Linked DNA regions of Homo sapiens: region 2 is linked to region 1. Evidence: fine-mapped expression QTL. A gene starts in region 1. The other region holds a variant in brackets. All regions are shown on one strand. Distances are from middle to middle.

Region 1 (2,917 bases):
GAAAAAGAGTTTACAGTTTCCAGAAGAAGGCAGATAGTGAGACGATCAGCAGATGGAGAAGGTGTGGGAATGAGGCTGCGAGAAGGGATAAATTATCTGGGTTGTTACCAAGTATGACAGAGACTATAGACAGGGTGGGATTTACGGTCTCAAATGAAACTGTGCCAAGCTGTCAGAGACACTGGGACTCTATTTTGCTTACTAAGGTTAAACACTAGTATTACTTTTGGTCACCATACTATTAAAAAATAAAGACAATCCTACGAAACTTAGGCAATTAATATCAGAATAAAGAGGTCAATAATGTTTATTCTCTATTAACATGTACATTTAGAAAATAAAAGCAAAGCTTAAAAATGCATGGAAGTCTTACACAAGACGACTGTTGGGGCATAATGCCTGACACAGAACGCAGTTAAACACTGTGGAAAGCCTGAATGAGTGAAAGCATACAAACCACCACCGTGCGGCTCTCTACACTAGCAAGTTTCCGAAGTTCGCCCCAGCCGGTTTCCCTGAACAAGTTCCCAACCGCATCACGTTTAGTTTATCTCGTTATTTTAACTCGGAGCGAGGCAATGGGAAAAAGAAAAACAATGAGAGCCGTACTCTGTTTATTAAGCGATGAATGACGACACATGGGTGAGCGTGTCTGGCATGCCCTATTTAAGACTTTAAACATAGTACATTAGTACGCTAACAGCAAGCTCTGGAAATAAAAGGAACCGCTTGCATATTTAGGGGGCTCTTTTGTAAGCCACAAAGGAAATCACCTGAAGTCAAAGCTCCCCTCTTTTCCTAGCAAGGCAGGGACGACGGCAAAGAGAAAGTAGGTCCCGGGGCGCTGCAACCCGTGCAACTTGCCGGCTGGCGTCCCCCGGCCTCGCGCCTCCACGCCCTGCGCGGGCGACCGCTCTTGCCACAACGGCGCCCCGCAGCGTCCTCCCCGGGGACGCCCGCTCAGCCGGGAGCTCGCGGCCGGTACTCACCCGCTGGGTATACTCTTCTTCTTCACCAGGACGAGAGGGATGAGAGACCCACGCCCCAGGCAACCCCGCTCTCAGGCCTCCTCCAGAACAGACCCCAGGGTACGCTACAACTCACACGCTCACGGGCAGAGGCGAGGGGCGGGGGTGATAGACCCCGGCGGCGAACAGACTTGGCGCACCGAAGATTCCCAAAGGCGCGTGCTCCGCTCCCTCTGGGTCCTGGCAGGCCAGGGGCGGCAGCGCGCATGCTCCTGGGTCGCCGCTACTTGCAGCCCGCGGGCGCCGTAGGGCTGGCGCAGGGTGCGGTGGGGCGGTTGGTGATCATCCTAGCCTGCGGTAGATGGTGCGCCCTGCCTTCCCTGCCCAGACGTAAGAAAAGTGCACTGTCCGTCCAGGTGAATGTCGGGCTGCTGGTGAAGGTTTCTCTGATTCTTCCCTGTCAGACATTCCCGCACTTTTGTGGAGCTCTGCTGCATGGGCAGAACTAGCTGGGCTGGGATAACCGGAGCCGGGGCCGCGCAGGCCGCTGGGACTTGTAGTTCGGGGGCCTGGCCGACCGGTTTGTTAGCCAATTTGGGAATGAGTAGAATTGAAAATCACTCGAGAGCAGTGTTTGATTTGCAAGAAATACGGGTCGGCATATTATTAATTCAGTGCCTACTGTGTGTGCTGAACACCTTGCCTTAGTCCTGATCTTCACATTAGGATAAGCAGGAAGATGAACTTGGAAGGTAGAATGTAATGAACAAAAATTCGCATTATGAACTACAAATGCTGTTGGAGATCAAGAGACAGAGTTAGAAAAAACTTCCTGAAAGACGTGGAGTTTGAATCAGCCTTAGAAACACGGAATGCTATCCATTTGCGGGGAAGTTGTAAAAATTAAAGGTTGGAGATGCCAGGGAGAATAAACAAGAACTCCATCCAGCTATAGTTGAGGGGTTATGTTGGAGAGTGGTCAATGTTGGAGAGTGGTCACTGCGGCTTAGATGGGGAAGTGATGTGAGAGTTTTTTGGCTTCACTTTCAGAAAGGGCCTCCTGGTTGACTTTCTCTCTAATTGAGGCTATAAGTATAGACACAGAGATACATCTTCAGGTTTGAATAAAAAACATTACAGTACTTGTTTAGAGCTTCTGGGCCTCCTGGCCAGTGGTTGCTCTAAGAATTAATACATTTTTATAAATCTTGTAATTCACCTTTGAGTAGCAAAACTACGTTGCATGGTGTGTGTTAGATGTAAATTTTCAAAATATAATATGATAGTTTTTGTAACCTGTTTCCACATTAGTTTTCATGTACCAGAAGTCCCAAGATAGAGAAGTGGGCCCAAATCTTTCTTGATCTACAGGAGCAGGACATGATGACTTGGGAACTGGTCCTCAGAGCAGTGGGTGATTTAGTTTTGTTGCCTTTCGAAGACTTAAATAAATTCACAGATCAGAAAATCTTTTGTCACGCCGTTTGTTCCTAAGTTTTGATTTTGGAAAACAAGATAACAGTTAAGTTAATTTTTAAACTTGCCAGTTAATGCAATACATGGAAGTCATAATGTTTTTTGTAGAACACTGTGAAATACTGCTATATTCCTCTTAACTAAGTAAAGAATTGTTAAGTTAAATTCCACTTCTTCCATATCCTAATAACAATAAAGGGTAGCTGGTGCTATATATTTAATAGATTATTTTTACAAAATGCTATTGTTGCCTTAATTACATCATAACTGTGAATGAGACCTTAATTCTGGACATAGCATCCTAATTCAAATTAAGTCTGGAAGGCATCATTTAGGAAACATTGCTATAAGAGAGTTCAGAAAGGTGTCATCATACTATGTGACAATAGATGAACTGAGATAAAGATAAAATTGGATTTTGGTCTGAATTCAGATCTGCTAAGGAAGGAAAGTGCATTAATACATTTAGAAAT
Region 2 (2,917 bases), 66 kb after region 1:
AGAAGAAAATGAGGGAGGGAAGGAAAGAGGGAGGGACAGAGAAAAGGAGAGAAGAAAGAAGGGATGTTTCTGTTAGTTGTTTTTCAATTGATTTTACTCCTCTTATACGGTTAAATGTAAGTTAGTGCGTCTCTGAGATCACTGTCATTCCTCTCCTTCTCCCCATTATTCCTTTCTTTCACCTTCCTAGGGGTTTGGAAACTACTTGGGCCTATTTGGTGAAAAGTAAGGAAGTATGAACAAGTGAGCAAGGAGGAGGGGGCGGGGGGAAATGGGCAGAGAACGAGGGAAGAACGGAGTTTGCTTCAAGTCCAGATGAAGCAGAAAAATAAGCTTATGGAGACCCGGGACAAAAGACTCAGGACTCAAAAAATTTAGGGAACACTGTGCACTCAGCAAAAGTTTTAAGAAGTATTGTTAAACTCTTTGGAGATTAGATGCAGAAGACTTGGGAATGTAAGGAAAGAGGAGAAAGAACAGCTTGCTGGCCTCTTTTTCTGCTGCCAATGGTCCTTTCTTGCTGGAAGCCACTCCCACAGAGAATGGTTAAGAAGCCTCCAGGCATGAAAGGAAGAAAATCATGATATTCATCTCTACATATTCATCTCAATCTTTACCTTCTCTTTTGTAGTCCTTGAAGGATCTTAGAGAGGAGATGAGGGAGAGCACTAAGATAAGAGTGGAGTTAGGGCCGGGCGTGGTGGCTCACACCTGTAATCCTAGCACTTTGGGAGGCCCAGGCAGGTGGATCACCTCAGGTCAGGAGTTCGAGACCAGCCTGGCCAACATGGTAAAACCCCATCTCTACTAAAAAATACAAAAAATTAGCCAGGCATGGTGGTTGACACCTGTAATCCCAGCTACTTGGGAGCCTGAGGCAGGAGAATCATTTGAACCCAGGAGGTGGAGGTTGCAGGGAGCTGAGATTGCCCCACTTTACTCCAGCCTGGGCATCAAGAGCAAAACTCTGTCTCAAAAAAAAAAAAAAAAAAAGAGTGGGGTTAGCACAGATCTTCCTTTGTGTTCCTAGAGTTCCACAAGTAAAACTCAGGAAAAAACCCACAATGTGCTTCAACTGCACTTAAAACAATTCATATGTTTTTAATGCCTTTTATAAACAGATGTGCCTTTTCTTCTTGAGGGAAATGGAACTGAAGAACTCTGTCTTTTGACATCAGGAAAACTTAGCTATTCTCTATCATGGAGCTTAGATGAAAATGGTCTTCCTCTGATACCTATGCCACAATCATTAAGATCTTCTTACTGCAGGTAATAAACTTTTATCTTTGAAAAATAATGCCAGGTCTCAGCAAAGCATCACACAAAACATATTATGTGTAAAAGAGAAAACTTGAGCAGCAATAGGAAGAGTTTAGT[C/T]TATTTGAATGTTGATTTATCTTTTATTTAAATCACTCTACTAAGGCAGTATGTGTATTTATATGTAAGAGAATGTGTCCCTTCAGTGCTTGGAATTATAGCCACACAGATGATGAGAGAGGCATTCCCAGAGTCCCTCACTTGTAGGCAAAGGTCAAGACTCCCAGGGACTTTATTTCTGGGGCCTGTATATCTCCCAGTCATTCTGGATTAGCAAAGAATCATTTATGCATTATCATCATTCTGGGAGTTCCCAGAAGGGTTGGGGTTAATTTTCAGATTAATTATTTGTGGGATTACTAGAAATAAGTACAGTAAATTCTATGAAAATGATGATAATGCTGGCTTCCATAATGTGCTATGTTTGAGGGAAATGGTAAATATAAAGGAAAAAGTTTATTTCATCATTTAAAATAATGAACAATGATAACAAAAAGATATCCTCTCCCCTCCACATCTTAACACATATTTTTAAAAATAAACGGAAATGAAAAGCTTCATATAACTTATGGCATTCTAGAAAGGGCAAAACTGTGGAGACAGTAGAAAGATCAGTGGTTGCCAGAGGTTCTAGGGGGAGATAAGAATGAATAGTTGGAGCACACGGGATTTTTAGAGTAGTGAAACTATTTTGCATAACATTATAATGGTGGATACATGTCATTACACAGTTGTCAAAACCTACAGAATTTACAAGACCAAGGGTGAACCCTAATGTAAACTATGGACTTTGAGTGACAATGATGTGTCAATGTAGGTTCATGGATTGTAAAAAAAGGTACCACTCCAGCGAGGGATGTTAACAGCTGGGGAGGCTGTGCATGTTTATGGGGATGGGGTACATGGGAACTCTCTGTGCCTTTTGTTCAATTTTGCTGCAAATCTAAAACTTCTCTAAAAAATTATGTTTTAAAAATATTATAGTTTTGAAAATTGTTATACATAACTGGATTAAATGGAAAATCAAAACTGAAATTAGAGACTGTTTAAAAAAGAACAGGGAGAACATTATATATAAAAACCAGTAGCATATGGCCAGAGTCATAGTAAGAGTTCATAAATGCTTTTCTTCGGTACATAAGAAACAAAGAGAAAAAAGCTAAATGGCAGTAGCACAAGGAGATCGTTGGTATGGACGAAACTGACATAGTGGGGGTAGTTTACTTACCAAGGAGTTTGACAATAAAAAAATGCTAAAAAATAACAGAAGACAAAAGAATCAAGGTACAGATTTCTTAAAAATTGGGGCCATATTTATCTTCTTAAAAGAAGTGATTAAAAGTGATGAGCTTACAAAAGATTGAAATCAGTGGGGAAAAAGACCCAATATATTGGAAAGAGTATAAGGTCCTTCAGAGTCAGGAAGGTATCAAACCAGAACCCAAGTGAATAACTGTGGTTCTGGAGAAGAGAAACTCTCTCTTCCTCAACTCAGGGAATGGGACAGTCATCACTATGAAAACAGAAATGGAACTTTGATGGATGTCCTTGTTTTGCTAAGTAAATGAGGTCATCTTCTTAGAGACCTGGAGAAGGTCAT

The links. PIP is the estimated chance that this variant, and not a neighbour inherited with it, causes the effect.
Region 2: its variant is the best candidate, but not a certain one, in a credible set for the expression of CC2D2B in whole blood (TOPMed, PIP 0.83).

What each region holds. Positions count from the first base shown.
Region 1 is chr10:95,906,674-95,909,590 of GRCh38, forward strand. It overlaps CC2D2B (coiled-coil and C2 domain containing 2B), which reads left to right and starts at 1,302. Exons shown (of 35, transcript NM_001349008.3): 1 at 1,302-1,384. All of the region lies in intron 2 of ENTPD1-AS1 (ENTPD1 antisense RNA 1), which reads right to left. RefSeq lists enhancers at 1,329-1,518, 1,559-1,618.
Region 2 is chr10:95,972,888-95,975,804 of GRCh38, forward strand. It overlaps CC2D2B (coiled-coil and C2 domain containing 2B), which reads left to right. Exons shown (of 35, transcript NM_001349008.3): 17 at 1,122-1,269. The region is part of intron 2 of ENTPD1-AS1 (ENTPD1 antisense RNA 1); the gene reads right to left. Among named protein-coding and RNA genes, the nearest start is that of CC2D2B, 66 kb to the left of the region's middle. The variant C/T (reference allele first, on the strand shown) is at 1,378.